Linked DNA regions of Homo sapiens. The protein of the gene in region 1 purifies or fractionates together with the protein of each later gene. This does not show direct contact. Each region holds a gene or a part of one and is shown on either strand. Other genes may lie near its edges.

Region 1 (6,025 bases):
CTTCCTCGTGGCCTATGTACTCTTACTTACACACGACGTAAATGTGGTGCCCAGACCAGGGTAGTCCAGAGCTAGGAAGTGACAAGAAGACATAGTGATTGCTGCTGGCAAGAGGATGATCCGCAGCTTGGCCTCAGTGTGTTTAGGGGCAGGTGGCAGGAAGGCCATAGGAAACCAGCCCAGTATCGCAGGCTTCAGCCGCCCGGGCCATTCAGTGCAGGGCGGAGGGCCCCCATCTTGCCCAGAGTTTGCCACCCCCATGTCACTGACACTCGTGACTCATGGCCCTGGGTCCTGAAGGTTTCTTATGTCCACCGTTCATTTTTTGAAAGAGCAAGCCTTTGCACAGTGTCCTGTCCATCGGATATTTGCTTCTCACCTACTTCCTCATCTGGCAAACTGCTATTCATGACTCAAGGCCTACTCAAAGGTCTCCTCTTGTCCTCCATGCTCCCAGGGCTCTGACTGTCCCATCCCTGGCCCTTATGGATGCTCCCAATGCACTCTGTCCATATCTCAGACACGACACTCACTCCATTGAATCTTGTAGCTTACAGGGTGAGTTCTCTACAGCAGTCACTGCTCCGTCGCCAGGGGCGCTCCAGCCAGTCAGCTTGGCTAGGACTTCATTATCTCTTTGCATGTCTGTCCACTCCACGGACTGTGGGACACAGTGGGGCTTCAAGGAGGGAGGCAGTGTGGCAAAGCGGTTAGGAGAATGGCTTTGGAGCCAGCGCACACATTCCCCATGGGGAATGCTCCTTAACCTCTTACTGCTCTTAACCGTGGGCAAGCTCCTTAACCTCTCTGTGCCTATGTCCTCATCTGTGGAAGGGGAAAGGAATTCCAACCTCATAGAGTTGTTGGGAGGAACAAATGGAGAAGATGTATGTGTTTGTTCAGTAAATAATGAGCTATCAACATGCAACCAACATTCAGGAAGCCTTCCCTGAGGTATGTGGCCTTGTTCCTACACTCCTTGAGGAATTTCTGGCACCTTCCTGTGTGTGTCAGTCTCCTGAAGTGATGAAGGGGATTTTTGAGACTGGGCCTGTGACTTGCCAACTGTTTTTGGGCCCAGCATCCAGCACAGGGCTGCCTCCTAACAGGCTCAGGAAGAGCCTGCTGAATACATGAGCCCATAGAATACATTTCATGGAGATCTCCATCAGAAACCATGCTTTGATGATTTTAGTGGCTTAGAGAGGCAACCCCAGTCACAGGGGAGGTTAGCGATGTGGAAGCTCACACCAGATGCACTGGGGATGCCACGTGCCATGGCTGTCCTCTCTCCTCCAGAGGACACAGGCACTTACTGGACAAGCAAAGCCTCAGGAAAGAGTCTCCCATCCCCCCAAAGCAGGTGTGAAGGCCTGAGTGCCTCCACACTGACAGAGACCTATGAATAAGGCACCTCCACCACCTCCCCGTGTGGAAATCAGGAGGTGCCAAATGCAGACTCTGCCTTGGCTAGCAGAGAGCATGGTCCTCCCGCCAGCATGCTCCAGGAGGCCCCGTCAGTGAAACCATAACCCAGCCTCAGCCGCCGTCTCTAAGCTCACTCCAGACATGAGGTCACTCTCAGAGACGCCTGGGCTGAAGTGTTAGTGGTCACTCCTGCTAACTGCTGGTTGCTTAAAGCCAGGCTGTCCTGGGAAGTTTCCCAAGAAACCTGCCAGGGGACAGCATCAGGACTGACCCTTCCCTTCCTCCATCCACCTGCCCACCTCACTGCCGTGCTGAGCCTGGCACATAGCAAGTGCTCAATAGACAAATGTGGCATGGATGCAGGAACTCTGCTATGTGATGGGGGTAGGGAGACCAAAGGACCTGGTCCTGAGGAGCCCCCAGGCTGGTGAGGGAGGCAGACGCTTGGCCAGACCATTCCCGTGCCCTTGAGGTGTACAGCATGGGAGTCCAGCAGAGCCCACCTAAAGGTGGCCAGCCCACCCTCTGTTGCATTCTGGAGCTCCCCAGGGCCCCCTCCTCATCCTCCCAGAGTCTACTGCTTCCCACCTAAGATATGAGCTCGCTTCAGCGAGTGTGGTCCATGTCCCCACCTCAACCACCGCTGGGCTGTGCGACCACTGGGCAAGTCCCTGCCTGCCTCTGAGTCTTCCTTGATTCGGGCTCCAAGCCTCACCTGGACCCTTCCCAGGGCTGGGCAGCCAGTGAGGGCCAAGGAAGCCCTCGAGAAATCCAACTGCAAACACTTACCGAGCCCCTAGTATGTGGCATTTAATCTGCATGGCCACCCAGGGGGGTGGTTAAGGTTTTATTTTATTTATTTTATGTATCATATTATATCATATTATATTATATTATATTATATTATATCATATCATATCATATCATATCATATCATATCATATCATATTATATTATATTATATTTTTGAGACGGAGTCTTGCTCTGTTGCCCAGGCTGGGGTGCAGTGGCTCAATCTTGGCTCACTGCAACCTCTGCCTCCCAGAGTCAAGTGCTTCTCCTGCCTCAGCCTCCCGAGTAGCTGGGATTACAGGAGCTCCCCAACATGCCCAGTTAATTTTTGTATTTTTGTAGAGATGGAGTTTCGCCATGTTGGCCAGGCTGGTCTCGAACTCCTGACCTCAAGTGATCTGCCCACCTTGGCCTCCCAAAGTGCTGGGATTACAGGCATAAGCCACCATACTCAGCTTCATTTTAAAGATATTGTGAGGTGCAGCAGTGACCTGCCCAGGTCACGAAGCTGGGGAAGTGACAGAGCCAGGATCAAACTCCAACTCCAAGTCAGCCTTCTTGCCCTTCCCCACACCACCTGCCCCTGCTGGCCGAAGGCTGGGACACGGCCCTGGCCCCTGGGGCCTCTCCACCCCAGGCCTCTCACTGCCCAGATGCTGAGGCAGGAATGCCTTGGGGCTGCCCGTCCTGCTCCATTTCTGCATTCAGCCAGGCAACATTTGCCCACTTGGGTGTGGTCAGGCCCTGGGGCCTCAGACTCCCACAAGAGGAAAACAAATAGCGGTGGCACCACCAGGTGTGCACAGAAGCAGGGGCTCCACCCTCAGAGGGAAGATGGGGGGCCCAGGGGCTTCAACAAAGAGCTGTCGCTCAGTCTTGAGAGAGCTTCTGCAGGCCAGGGCGCCATCCCCAGGAGAGGGCACAGCACCCACAGAGGTGGTGGCGGAAGTGGCAAGGGCATCAGGATGGGGGTGAGACGCTCGTGGGGGACAGTGGCCCCAACCCCCTCAACAAACCCGGGCCACACGTTGACCACGCCCACGCCAGGGCCCCCTGCTTTCACTGCCCCGGGGACAACACAAAGGAGCACTGACCGGGACAGATGCCTCTCCACCTTGGTACCCCGACAAGGGTGCAGCTGCTCGGGGTGGGACGCTGAGGGGTCGACTCCAGGGGACTGGGGCAGAAGAGCCCCCAACCTCTGAGGAAATGATGACATCATCTGTCCGTCCGTCCGTCCTTCCTGCTTCAGGAGGGGAAACTGAGGCCCCGAGAAGGCCCAAGTCACAAAACTAATGAATGGCAAAGCCAAGAGTCGTCCTGGGATGCGCGGTCTCCCCGCCCCGTGCCAAATGACTCCCTGTTGGGGCTTAGAGTTCCCGAGTCCGCCGCCCACTCTTGGCCCTCGCCCCCGCGGGGTTCCGATCTCTGCTCCAGGACTCGGCCTCCCGCGCCCCGCCCCGCCCGGTGGCCGCGCGCCCGCTCACCTGGCACAGCAGGTCCCTCGCGTAGCCGGCGCACGCGGCCCACTCGGCGGCGTCCACGCGGCTCGCCAGGGCCCAGAAGCGGCGGGTCAGCTCGGCGTCGCGCCCCTCATCGCAGCAGCCGAAGTCCGAGTACTGCGCGCAGAGGCGCAGCGGCTGCGTCGGCCGGAAGGGCGGCCTGAAGTCCAGGCACTGCGGATGCGCGGCGGCCCCGAGCACCCAAAGCGCCAGCAGCGCCCCGGCCCTGGCCCGGGCCATCGCTACGCCCCGCGGGGGAAGAGGCGGAGGGACGGCAGCCCCGGTCCCCTCCCGGGGCGCTCGCGGCGGCAGGGAAGGGGCGGGCGCTCCCCTTCCCTACACGCAGGGCCTCGAGTTTGGGGACCTCCCCTTCTAGGAGGTCACCTCTGGTCGGGGACACTCGGCGGGACTGAAGGAAGAGGGACGCGGCGCAGAATGCGGCACGACCTCTTTTAACCGCTTTCCAAATTCGATGGGAGTGGCCCGGTCTGTTTAAAGCCCCGGTGTGTTTTCCCGGTTCCGCCTGGGGCCCTGCTTCCTCCCCACAGGGCGCTCTTTAGCCAGGGAGGCGCAGGGCCAGAGGCCTGGACTCCTGGGCTTCGGTTCCACCTCCCACTGGGCTAGGGAAACGGATGCCCGCAGCCCGTCCCCGAAAGCTCCCACGTAACATTTTAAAAATGGGGGTGCGAGGGAAAGAACAGGGGGTGTTGCCCCAGGACTCTCAGGGAGAAGTGAAACCTGGCGTAGGGGTGGGGAGGGAGGACGGAGCAGTCTCCGCAGTCCACCCTTTGCCCTTACTGTGGGCTTCTTCCCAGTCTCTGCTCCTGGGGCAGCGGATTCTCCTGCAGCCCAGGACCCACTGGGGCTCCCCACTTCCACTCTCGCATAGGGAGCACTGATGAATCTACCTCCTGGGATGGGCATCCAGCCCTTTGTTCCGCTGCCCCCGCTGGAGATTCAGACCCAACCCCGCCCCACCCCCCCACACACATACAGACGCACACACGCTGTCTTACCTACCCCAGAATCTCATGGCACCAAAACCACCCACACAGACAAACACACACACACTGTCTCACCTACCCTAGAATCTCACAGCACCAAAACCACCCAGGCATTTTTCTCAAGTGGACCTCAGCGTTTGCTTCTCCCTGGAGTGTCCTTCCCCATCTTCTCTGTCCAGTGAGCTCCTACTCCATCTTCATGGCCCCAACGCACACATCCGTCCTCTGCAGGTCTCTTTGGACTGTCCTGGGGGATCATGTTTCTGTCTTTGGGCCCATGCTCCTGGCAGAGCTGGGGGTGGATGAGATGCGGCAGGGCTGGAGCACTCAGAGGTCTGTGGCTCTGGCCTGAACAGGTGCAGTGTAAGAGTCAGGGTCTCCGCACAGCCAAACATCTCTGAGTATTTGAAACACGGGGAATTTAACGCAGGGACTTGAAGCCAAAGAGGCTAAGAAGCCATACAGGGCTCAGTGAAGTAACCTTGAGATCAGCAACAGTAGGAACAGTCCCCAGGTCCTTGATGCAGGAAGAGCAGATGTTACTGGAGCCAAGGAGCTATGGTCACCTTGTCAAAGCTGGACCCTCACAAGGCCTGTCTGGCCACAGCTGGAGATAGCCACTGTCAGAGATTCTGCACAGACAGAGGAGGAGAAATACCCCGGCTTCTCCCTGCCACTTCCCCTCCAACTCCCACCTGTGGCTTTCATTGGCTGAACCTAGCAGAGGGCTGCTAGGGTGGGAAATGCGGCCTGCAACGGCTTCCTGCACAGACAGCTGGGAATAGGCAGAGCCAGGATGGAATCGGAGGGCACGATGGCGCCTACTTCCCAGCTGGGACTCAGAACTGGGTGATAGTCACACATCAACACAGGGCTCCAGATGAGTGTACAGAGGTGGAAGTGACACAGAGCCTGGGCCACAGCCATGAGGTTTGGGCTCCTACAGCCACAGAAAATGTCAAACACAGCCCAGCCCCAGCCAGAGTAACATAAATCCTCACCCTAATACCTATTTACCTCGGTTTCTGTTATCTAGTACATCCTGATTGGCTTTCCAGAAAAACAACAAGGCATGAAAAAAAGATAAGAAAAGTCACAGTCAGGAGCCGGGCACAGTGGCTCACGCCTGTAATCCCAGAACTTTGGGAGGCTGAGGCGGGCGGATCACCCGAGGTCAGGAGTTCGAAACCAGCCTGGTCAACATGGTGAAATCTCGTCTCTACTAAAAATACAAAAATTAGCCAGGCGTGGTGGCACGCGCCTATAATCCCAGCTACTGGGAGGCTGAGGCATGAGAAT
Region 2 (3,864 bases), on another chromosome or scaffold:
ACTGGATCCTTCTGCTATGAAGGACCACTGGCAAAAGTTGAATGGGACCTGAGGATTAGACAGTATGACACATCAGTGTTAATTTCCTGATTTTTTATGGTTGTTTTGTAGTTATGTAGAAGAATGTCCTTGTTTGTAGGAAAGACATATTCAAATATTTGGGGGTGATGTGGCATCATGTCAGCCACTTATTCTCACATAATTCAGGGACAAAAAATTTTTTTCTTTTTTATTTTTGAGACGGAGTCTCACTCTGTCGCCCAGGCTGGAGTGCAGTGGCGCGATCTCGGCTCAATGCAACCTCCACCTCCCAGGTTCAAGTGATTCTCCTGCCTCAGCCTCCTGAATAGCTGGGACTACAGGCGTATGCCACCACGCCTGGCTAATTTTTTGTATTTTTAGTAGAGATGGGGTTTCACCATGTTAGCCAGGATGGTCTCGATCTCCTGACCTTGTGATCTGCCTGCCTCAGCCTCCCAAAGTGCTGGGATTATAGGCGTGAGCCACCGCGCCTGGCCACAGAAAAATTCTTTATACTGTATTTGCAACTTTTCTGTAAGTTTAAGACTTTCTTTTTTTAAAGTTACTAGTAAGAAAGATTATTCAGACTATACCTCCATTAAATAGGAATCTACATTTATAAGAAAAAAATTATGACAATTCAGAAGTAGTAGATGCCATTTTTTTTTTTTTTTTTTGGAGATGGAGTTTCACTCTTGTTACCCAGGCTGTAGTGCAATGGCACGATCTCAGCTCACCGCAACCTCTGCCTCCCAGGTTCAAGTGATTCTCTTGCCTCAGCCTCCCAAGTAGCTGGGATTACGGCGCCCACCAACACAACTGGCTAATTTTGTATTTTTAGTAGAGACGGGGTTTCTCCATGTTGGTCAGGCTGGTCTCAAACTCCCAACCTCAAGTGATCCGCCCGCCTCAGCCTCCCAAAGTGCTGGGATTACAGGCATGAGCCACCACGCCCGGCCGATGTCCTTCTTTTTTTGTGCACTTTAGAATATCATCATCTGTGCAGGTTAAAGAATAAAAGAGCCCTTTCCAGTCACAGAATTCAATGTATATCTGTAGGTATCTATTAGAAAGACTAAAATAATACCAGTACCTCCCAAGCTGTCAAGATCCTCAAGAATCCTGCCAAATCTGTGAAATAAAGCAAACAGTGAATTAAATGCAAATCATGTTGGTCTCCCTTTAAAAATAAATAACACACTTCAGGGTGATGAAAATGTTCTAAAATTGACTGTGGTGATGGATGCACAACTCTCTAAATATATCAAAACCATGGAACTGTACACTTTAAACAGGCGAATTGTATGGTGTGTGAATTATATTTCAAAATTGTTATAAAACAAGGAAATAAAAACAAATACATAAAAATAGCACTGTGTTACCTTACGGTGTTTTGAACAGTCAAATATTTCTCTCGTAATTCAGGCTCACTGCCCAAAGGCAAGAGAACTTCAATATAACTGTCCTTCATTCTCCTAGGAGGCAGTCCATCCTGTGATTTAGCCAAGAAACTATGAAGTAATTTCCTTTCTTCCATTGCCTTCACATGGTCTCTGAGAAGAAAGGATGCAGGATTCATAAAACAAGAGCAGTTCTAGCCCACAATTCCAGTGGTACACAGGCCAGTAAGATACCATCAAAGGAGGAAAAAGAAGGTCTGGGCCTACTTTCACCTTCTCTTCCTTCCCTCCCTTCCCACCTGCCACTTGGTGAAATTGATCATTTCCGGTATCATTTCTCAAGCTTAAAAACATTCTTAAGGCCAGGTGCAGTGTCTCACGCCTGTAATCCCAGCATTTTGGGAGGCCAAGGCGGGTGGATCACACGAGGTCAGGGGTTCAAGACCAGCCTGGCCAACATGGCAAAACTCCGTCTCTACTAAAAATACAAAAAATTAGCCAGGTGTGGTGGTGGGCACCTGTAATCCCAGCTACTTGGTAGGCTGAGGCAGGAGAATTGCTTGAACGTGGGAGGCGGAGGTTGCAATGAGCCAAGATCACACCACTGCACTCCAGCCTGGGCAACAGAGCAAGACTGTCTCAAAAAAAAAAAAAAAAAAGAAAACTTAAAACTGATATAGATATACCCAAATGAGCCATATATTCACCCTTATCAAAAAGTTTACTCAAAGACCAGAATATTTGAAATTAAATTAAAAATTTAGAGAGATGGACAAAATAGTATATATATATACATATAAATATATATGCTAAAGAATGGCTTGGCCACTCTACTTTATATTCCCATTTCTCACCTGACAGTTCTCGGATTCTTTGAGCCCCAGTTCTCTCTCTCTCTCTGCCTTCAATTTCAGGAAAGAGAGACAGAGGAGGGAAAATGGACTATATCCAAAGGAAGTATGGAAGGCAGAACAAAAGGTAAAGAAGAACATAACATGAAAAGGAGACAGAAAGGGAAGAAAAAGAAGAGAAGATTAAGGTGAAAGAGAAAAGAAAGACAAGGGGATACGGAACGACAATGTTGATAAGAACATTAGCTAAGATGTCTTTCTAAGCTTAACTTATAAAGTATTATTTCCAGAAATGTTTACCCTACAAAAACTACAGGAGATAGAGGAATGAGTTAAATGACACCAGTAAATCCAGAATGTGGAACATTCTCAAGACAAATGGCTTGGCCTCCTTAAAGTCAAGCTCATGGGGGAAGAATAGGGGAAGGACGACTGTCCATTACTCTAGATTAGGGAAGACTAAAGAGTCATAACCACCAGATGCAACATGCAATCCTTTATTGGATCTTGATGTTTTTTAAACAGCTATAAAAACATTTTTGTTAAAAGGAGTAATCTATTACACAAAATGGTAACAGTTGAGGAAATGTGACTATGGATGAGTAATATACTAGCAAGGAATTGCTGTCAATTTGATTACATGAGAGAATGTCTTATTTGTTGGAGATAAGCGAAGGCTGGTTTTATAAAATGTTTACTGAAGATGCACGCTGAAGTGTCATGGTGTCTATAATTTACTTAGAAATGGTTCAGGCAATATGTGTATATTGGAAAATTTGGCAAAATATTAATAAGTATGGAATCCAGGTGGTGGGTACACAGGTATTCATTCTTTCTACCTTTTAGTAAAGTGAAATTTTTCATATAAAGAATTTAAAAATAAGTCATTAGATAATTTCTATACCAACAATAGATTATTATATATCTAGTGATCACTCGTGTTTTTTCTATCTCATTTTAGCCTCAAAATTATGTACACCAAGAGGGATATGATCCTACTTTACAACAAGGAAATACTGCGAGAAAGAGAAAGACAATATGGGAGGCCTGACTAATTTTGAACTGACAAGAAGCAATAAAGGAGTCAAGTTGCATGAAACAGAGAAACTTAGCGACTTGGGTTCAAGTCCCAAACCCTGACATTTAATCATTCAATCTCTGAGTTTCAGTTTCATGTGTAAAAAAAGGAACAGGAACATATGTCGTAAGCACGTCACAAGTTTTGTTATGAGAATCAGTGAAGTAATATACACCTAAATGCACTTTGAAAATGCAGAATATACGTAAATCATCTTCTTTCATGACAATGAGGTGTCATCTGATGAGTATGTTGAAATGTTGACCTTCTCCCCCAAGCAAAATACTTCTCAACCTATCTCTGAACATAGGGCTCCCCATCCCCACTGTGAGACCATCAACTGAGCCTAAATACAGTGTAGTATAATACCTTGGGGATGAAAAGAATGAATGAAAACAAAGATGCATACCTCCAGTTTGTGGATGCTCCTACTATCTCCCGCAACTTATCTCGAACTGAAACAAAAATAAAGAGGTCATTCCATGAAACAAAGAAATATGAGAAACGGATTATG
Region 3 (3,864 bases), on another chromosome or scaffold:
GCTAGGTTAAAAAATGTCCGACCTCTTTTGATTCCCTGAAACTTTCTTGATTTAAAAAACAAAACCAAACCAAACCAAACCATGGGGGTGAATGGGACACGTCAAGATAAAAAGCTGGAATAAACCCAGAGACTTTCTGGAGTGGGAAACATGTAATGGGATGTTGGGAATGCAGGCCCTTGCAGCCCACCTAGGTGGGGAAAGCTTCTAGCAGTGGTTGATGCAAAAATCTATTCTAATTTTAAACAGTTGCAGGGAGGGGGTGTTTAACGGCTGTATAGCACCTTGTACCTTCTGGGCACTTACAGATATTAAATGATGGTGATGATGAATGGTACACAACTCTGTAGGAAGGTTTATAAAAACAATTACAATTTGTTAAGAAATTTCCCAAGAGTTCTTTAAACAAACCTATTTAAACTACCATATCTCTTTAAAAAAATCTTCCGCTCTCAGTATTATATGATGTTCTCAAGCTGAGGTTTGGGCAATAGCCACAGTCATGTCAAGGGGACATGGAAGAGATCCTTCTCCTTAAATACTGAGGAACTTTGTATCTGCCAGGGCTTTCTTCATCTTCATCATCATCATCATCTTCTAATATACAAAATGGACTTCTTTTTAAAAAGGTGCTTTTCTGAGGATGGATTTATCAGCTAAATGCCTTGACATGGAATGTATGTGAACTCCCCTCCCACAGCATCTGTCACAGCTCACCCTCATCATCTTAGAAGCATCAGGATAAAAAGGCTTGATTTCTTTGGTATAATCTCTCCCAGGATCTTGCACTGCAACTCTTCTGGCTTCCCTTATGGCACCGTTTTTGGTCCATGGAATCCCCACTTTTGGCACTGCTGTAAGCACGGACAGCTGGACTTCAGTGCGCACTTCAGCAAGAGCAGCACTTGGATTTGTCTCGGCACAGCACTTTGGGCCTTTGAGAATATGAGCTTCGATGACATAAAGCTAATAACTTGGTTTTGTGGGCAGCCATCCTGTTCACTCATTAGGCTGGAGCGGAATTTTCAATCCTTGTCAACTAGTGAGGAGAATGAAAAACATGCCAGGGTTGGCCCAGCAAGTCCAGTTTGTCTCACCCCTCTCCAAGAATGTTCATACTATATTTACACATCTAGAATCATTTGAAATATAGTGTAGTATCCTAAATCCATCTCTATTTCTGTGACTAGCCTGTACTTTTTCAGATCACTGCTGGTAAAATCTAGAAGAAATCCTAATTGCAGTCAAATCTAGCGAAAACCCTAATTCCAGCAAAACCAAATGTCAGGTTACTTCCCTGAACCAAAGTATTCATAACTCAAAATTGAGACGCTTAGTAGGACCCAAAGATCTTTCCTGGAAACTTTTTTTTGAGACGAAGTTGCTCAATCTCCCAGGCTGGAGTGCGATGGCGTGATCTTGGCTCACTGCAACCTTTGCCTCCTGGGTTCAAGAGATTCTCTTGCCTCAGCCTCCCGAGTAGCTTAGATTACAGGTGCCTGCCATCATGCCCGGCTAATTTTTGTATTTTTAGTAGAGATGGAGTTTCACCATGTTGGCCAGGCTGGTCTCAAACTCCTGACCTCAGGTGATCTGCCCACCTCGCCCTCCTAAAGTGTTGGGATTACAGGCGTGAGCCACTGCGCCTGGCCTGGGAACTTCATACTACTAGAAACTTTTAAGATATAATTTTTAGTAGTTTTACTCCCAGAAATGTCATTAATATTTCTAGAGCTTTAGATCTCTTGGCTTAGACTTTCCCATGTTTACAAACTTATTCTGAGTTTGGAAGCAAAAGTGACCCCCACTTAATCTGATAATGGGAGGCTACTCCAACTGTTAAAATCCTAACCAATATGTTTTACTTCTAGCTCCTCAACAGCAGCAGGGTAGGTAGGATGAGTGCTTGTGCCCTCACCTCAACCCATACCTCACCCAGTTCATCTTCTGAGGGCAAATCTTGAAACTCATTGCCATATTCCTGGCTTCCAGTTCTAGCTCAGCCTAGGGGTTGGTGATTCTTACGTTGTTGTTCCACAGGTTACAGTGACTCTTTTTCTCATCCTGCTGTTATTCTTCATGAATTGGCTTCTAGGCAACCCAGTAGTGTACATATACCAAAAGGGCTCACCTCAGCCAGCACAGGAGGCTTCTTGAAGTTCTAGTCCTCTTTATGAAACATCCACTGAATTGCTTCCAAGACTAGGTTACCACTCTAACAAGGCACTCTGCTATACATTCAGTCTTGCTCTTGGCTACTTTAGCCACTGTTGTGTTTCTCTAGCACCCAAGTGTCACAGAGATTGTTCATGCTCATGTGGCTTAAGGAAAAGTTCCAATAGGAGCTTAATTGTTCAAACTCTCAATATAAATGGAAAACTCTACAGTATAGACTTCAATAGAAAACAATTTCCAATCAATATTGAAGGCAATAACTTCCTGTTACTTGAGAAAATGTAAAGTGCTATACTAGTCACAATTCAAACACATAGATATATAAATGTGTGTGTATGTGTCTACAGAGGGTAGGATTTCTTTCCAGTTGATGAACAAATTCAAAGGTCCTACCACAATTAAAATGAAAAATATTTGTGATAATGTTAAACTGACTGAATTTCATTTTTTTGGAAAAATATTCTGAAGACCAACTCATGTAGTACTTTTTGCCTAGAAATATAGTTTCTTTCTCTATTCTGCTCTAACCTGTAACACCCCCTTCCCTCTCTATCTCACATTCTTTGGCCATCACCCAGAGAAAAATTAATCTAGCCACCTGTCTCTGGGAAGCCTGAGGCTTTTCTCTGGCTAGTTTGCATTCATCTTTTGCCCTTAACAAATCTGAATATAAAAACAGTACTAAAAACATCTGATATGAAGAGGTGCTTGGTTTACCAGTGCTGTAAGATAATGGTAGTGGAGGTGTCCATGCTTATTATACCATAGAGTTAAAGTGAAGACTGGATCCAAATCATAACAGAAAAAGAGAAAGAAAAAAAAAGATAAGTAGAGACATAACAAATAGAGGGACCAGGAAACATTCAGCATTAAATATGTAACCTCATTAAATAGTCAACATTGAAATTTACATGGGCAAGGCACCACGAACATGACATTGAGAAGGTATATCTCAATATGCAAGACATTGCAAGATGGGAGGTGGGGGAGGTTAAGGGAATGTGCTGGCTGACATGGTCAGTGGTCTGTGTGCTGCCCTTCAGTGCATAATCAGGCAAGGAGTTATGTGCACATGTTCTATGCTAAGATGAACCAAACACCAACCTTCAAGGCAAGGCGCGGCCATGCCACAGGACACCAAGAGCAGACTGCTGGCCTGCAGCAGCATGCCCACTCCATGGCCATTCCTAGGAGCAGAGCCCTGCACTCTGGCTAGAGGAGGCAAGACTCTTTGTGGGCTAACCAGCCTTCTTTCCTGTGAGTCCTATATTGCTGGCCAGGGGATAAGGGACATTCTCCAAATAGAGCCTCACATATTACAATCACTTAAAAAAGTAATAAGAGCACAATAAAATACATTATTTTCCTTTCCTGATCCTCTTTGTTATACATGAATCACATGAAAAGCTGTTAAAAATGTTAAAAGTTTAGAAATTTCCAAGGCCACTAATGTGCTATGTAAGTAATACTGCACAGTCAGTCTTGGCTTTAAGGAAACTCTGCACTGGTAGATGAGGGGCCTCAGGGCTCACTCACTCACTAGGCACAGAGAACATGTCTGTCAACCCTGCCACAGGTTGCTTTTCTAGAGGCCTGGCCTCTACTTCCAGCATGCGTGTGCACGCACACATGGGCACACAAGTGTACACACACATTGTTCGAGTGACTCTTGGGATTTCAAGGTCAAAG
Region 4 (3,864 bases), on another chromosome or scaffold:
AGGGGCGATGATGATGTGTTCCTCTTCTAACACAAATTTCTTGAACAAATATTAATAGCAAACATATTCCATGCAAATGGAATATTCCATGCAAATGATATGTCCATATCAGCACAAAGGTCTGATAAGCACAATTGTCACCAATTACTACAGATATGTGATCTGTTTATCACTTTTTTAGATCCTGAAAAATGGAGAGTTAAAAGGATACCCATTTATTTAATGAATAAGTTTCTCTGTAATAACTAGAATTACAACTAGAATCTCTCTGTTTTCAAGGAAGTCATATGATCTGAAGAAGTACAGCAGAGTGCACAACACATTTTGTTACTGAGGATTACAGTAAAAAGTCAAGGACAAAAGCTATTTTCCATGCCAGAATTATCAGATGCAGGAGTAAAATTCTAGCACATGAGCAAGGACTCTACATCTATTGGTTACAAATGACATCATGCTTTCTAAAGAATCATGCTCATTTTTCCTGTTTCTACCAAATTGCATAGTCTGGAGCTCCCTCTCCTGGATTAACATGATTTTATCAATTTCTTCATACTATAAACCAGAGAGGCAGAATTTATCCACAGCAACAAATCATTTAATGAATGTTTATGACTTTTCTTTCTTATTAAAGGGGACATTCTTTTATCCCAACATATAAAGTCGTTGAACTCCATCAAACAATAAGGAGAACCTCACAGATAAAAGGAAGAAGGTGTCATTAAACACATTACCTTTCGGCTGGAAAAATGGGCGTGTTTGCCCAATTTACTGTTAAGTGCTTCAAGAAACATTTCATCGGTGACTTTGCCGACATTCATGCAAGCATCATCAAGGATTGCAATGATCCCTTTGTGCTGTTGCTCCACGAGGTCAACAATGATCTGATTGTTGAAGTAGTCAATCTGTAGGACACAGCAAGGAGGGAATTCTGAAGAGAACAGTGACCAGGCCAGGTTAAACCCTGATGCTCCCATTTGTATCAGGAGTTCAGGTAAAACTACTTTGGTGTCAAATGTGTGAATAACATTAAAGAGGTCTTACGCTAAAAAGAGTACACATTCTAACAGAGGTTTATTTTTAAATTTCTTTGTTAACTTTCTATCATGAAATACACCGTCTGAGATTAGTACAGCCCAAGGCAAAGATAATAAGGTAGACACCATTTCTCCCATTACAAACTCATTTTAATCCTGCCTCCAGATCCCACACCCAACCCTACTCCTTCATACCAATCTGCCTGCCATTAACTGTAAGGTCCACCTTCCACAAAGGGCCAACAAATAACCTTAAAGTATTATCTGATATACTACTTCATAATAAAGTTAAGGTACTACACAAAACTTGCAATTTTATAAAAGTAGGGTACAAGTTAAATGTTTAGTTCTAGAAATTTTGTGCAATATGTTCATAACGATGGCTGCAGTTGCCACAAAGTGCCTCGTTTACCTTTAAATACTGTTAATGTGTCACGCATGCAGATGGAAGGGGTGGAACTGTGCACTAAAGTGGGGGCTTTAACTGTAGTGTTTGGCAGAGTTGCCTTCTACCTGCCAGTTCAAAAGTTCTGTTTTCATGCAGAATATATATACTAAAAAATTTCAGTCTTTTAAACAGCCTTACTCTGATTCAGCCTCTTCAGATACTCTTGTGCTGTGCAGTAGTGGCTCTATGTGTAAATGCCATGCACTGAGGGTACACAAAAATATCAACATTATGTGTACAGGATAATGCCTCATCCCAATCAGATGTCCATTTGTCATTGTGTTTGTTAACAACCCTTTATCTCTTAGTGTTAAATAAACTCCACTTAAAACGGAAAAAAAAAAAAAAGAACTTGCATTTTTAGTTACATGACCCTGAATGACTAAAATCCAAAAGAGCATTTCTTTTGGTTTCCCCAAAGTTAAAAAGCTTCAATAGAATTTTGAACAATTTGAAAAAATTCAGTAGAATTTTTACATTTTTCTAGGCATAATATAAAGAATTTAATTCTGAGAAATAAATATCTATAAAAGATAAGAAAAAGCTTTTCCTTTACTTCCACAAGGTGAATGAAGTTATAAATAACTTCTGGCTTTTCAGCAACTATACATGTACAAGGTTTGTCCAACAATCCTCTGCCACACCTGTTTATTCTGACAGCCTGCAATGTACCTATCACTACACACAGAAGGCACACAAAGAAAGGCCAACTCAGGCAAGCTGCACATCTCAAAGAGGGGCAGCTTATGATCACACAGTTTAATCTTGCTATGTCCCATCTTACGCAGGAGTTACCTAAACTGATTGCTGTCTCCATTACCTTCTATAAGGTCTATATACTCATAATAGACCATTCAAGTGACTCATGTATTCCCATTTCATGCTTTAAAATCCAAGGTTTTATGCCAGTTATTTGTACATGGCTTTTAGCTCCATTTCTAGTCTTGCATGTTCTCTTCTGTATCTTATGGACTGAAACCTGTAAACTGGGTAGTTTTTACTTTGTTTTTTATACTTTTCTGATCTGTCTAAACTAAAGTTTCTCAAATAGGGGAATAGGGGGAATTTTGCTCACCAGGGGACATTTGGCAATATCAGGAGACATTTCTAGTCAAAATGGGGTAGGGGTGCTACTGTCATTTGGTGGGTAGAGGCCAGGGGTGCTGCTAAACATCCTACAATGCATAGAACAGCCTCCACAACAAAGAACTATCTGGCACAAAATCTCAGTAGTACTGAGGTGAAGCAGTGTAGGTCTAAATATTTACTTTCATTATGGGCATTTATTACATTTCTAATTAGGGAGAAAAGTTATTTCCATCTTTGGAAAAAAAATCCTAAAAATACTCAAAAAGCAGGAGCTCTATATTAATAGTTGACATCTTAGACTTCGGGACTGTGAAATTAAAGACGAAGTCTTTTGTCCCAGGGACTAAAGAATTACCTTCCCTAAAATCCCAATTATATTATTAAAAGCTATTGGTCTCTGCTAGTAACTTTCAGTTTGTAAGTTTAATACTGCTTCAAACATTGCTTAAACCAGTAGTTTTCAAACTAAGTTCTTCCAGCAACTTGGCATTCCCGTAAGGTTTCCTAAGGGATACCAGGAGCCAGAAGACTTGTGATGGGGTAGCTTAGGGACATGGGGCTCTGGCCTTTCATACCCACTCCAGATAAAACAGCTTTGTGCTTGAGTATCAAGTTCTCAATAGTTAAAATGATTTGCAAACTACAGCATCGAAAGCTTTTAAAAGTGAATGTACCAGATAACCAGACATTATGAACCTCCTGGTGGAAGTTCACACACAGTCTATGAAATGGGCTGTGGAAAAAAACTGACTCTGAATCCAGTCAAGACTCTAGATCTAACAACCAATATACAGGACATACAAGAAACAGAGAAACATATTAAATGGCACCTGAGGAATGCAATTAGCAAAATCCAGACTGTGGGGAACTCCATAACAAATGACTCATTCTCTTCAACACAAGATTGCAAAGAGAGATCATTCAAGGAAAAAAAGAAACATGGAGAAAATCTATAGATATGCAAGAGACCTATCAATCAATCATAATGTAAGAAACTTATTTGGATCCAAATTTAACCTGCAAAACAACAACCAGAAGACAATTAAGGAAATATGAAACATGTATACTGACTGGATATTTTATGATATTAAGGAATTTTTGTTAATGTTTTAGGTATGATAATGGCATTGTGATTATGGTTTTTGTAAAACTCTCTTAGAGAAATACATGGAAATATTTACTGAATAGATACCCAATTGAATAGATGAAATAATGTGATATCTGAAATTTGCTTCAAAATAATCTGGGAGTAGGTGGGTATAGTACAGATGGCATAAGACTGGCAATCAACTG

Evidence for each region. The genes of interacting proteins can lie anywhere in the genome.
Region 2: the proteins of HHIPL1 (region 1) and ACOT9 purify together in Homo sapiens (affinity purification with mass spectrometry; one large-scale study listed by BioGRID and IntAct). This does not show direct contact.
Region 3: the proteins of HHIPL1 (region 1) and PEAK1 purify together in Homo sapiens (co-immunoprecipitation; one large-scale study listed by IntAct). This does not show direct contact.
Region 4: the proteins of HHIPL1 (region 1) and MYO1D purify together in Homo sapiens (affinity purification with mass spectrometry; one large-scale study listed by BioGRID and IntAct). This does not show direct contact.

The regions. Positions count from the first base shown.
Region 1 is NC_000014.9:99,643,145-99,649,169, reverse strand, and holds the start of HHIPL1 (HHIP-like protein 1 isoform a precursor), read right to left. Parts: upstream 4,042-6,025; 5' UTR 3,963-4,041; coding exon 3,708-3,962; intron 3,482-3,707; exon of another isoform or gene 3,315-3,481; intron 1-3,314.
Region 2 is NC_000023.11:23,729,413-23,733,276, forward strand, and holds part of ACOT9 (acyl-coenzyme A thioesterase 9, mitochondrial isoform a precursor), read right to left. Parts: intron 3,806-3,864; coding exon 3,760-3,805; intron 1,575-3,759; coding exon 1,404-1,574; intron 1,153-1,403; coding exon 1,115-1,152; intron 1-1,114. UniProt on the Homo sapiens protein: Mitochondrial acyl-CoA thioesterase. Catalyzes the hydrolysis of acyl-CoAs into free fatty acids and coenzyme A (CoA), regulating their respective intracellular levels. Regulates both mitochondrial lipid and amino acid metabolism.
Region 3 is NC_000015.10:77,108,741-77,112,604, forward strand, and holds part of PEAK1 (inactive tyrosine-protein kinase PEAK1), read right to left. Parts: 3' UTR 1-3,864. UniProt on the Homo sapiens protein: Probable catalytically inactive kinase. Scaffolding protein that regulates the cytoskeleton to control cell spreading and migration by modulating focal adhesion dynamics. Acts as a scaffold for mediating EGFR signaling.
Region 4 is NC_000017.11:32,754,761-32,758,624, forward strand, and holds part of MYO1D (unconventional myosin-Id), read right to left. Parts: intron 903-3,864; coding exon 732-902; intron 1-731. UniProt on the Homo sapiens protein: Unconventional myosin that functions as actin-based motor protein with ATPase activity. Plays a role in endosomal protein trafficking, and especially in the transfer of cargo proteins from early to recycling endosomes.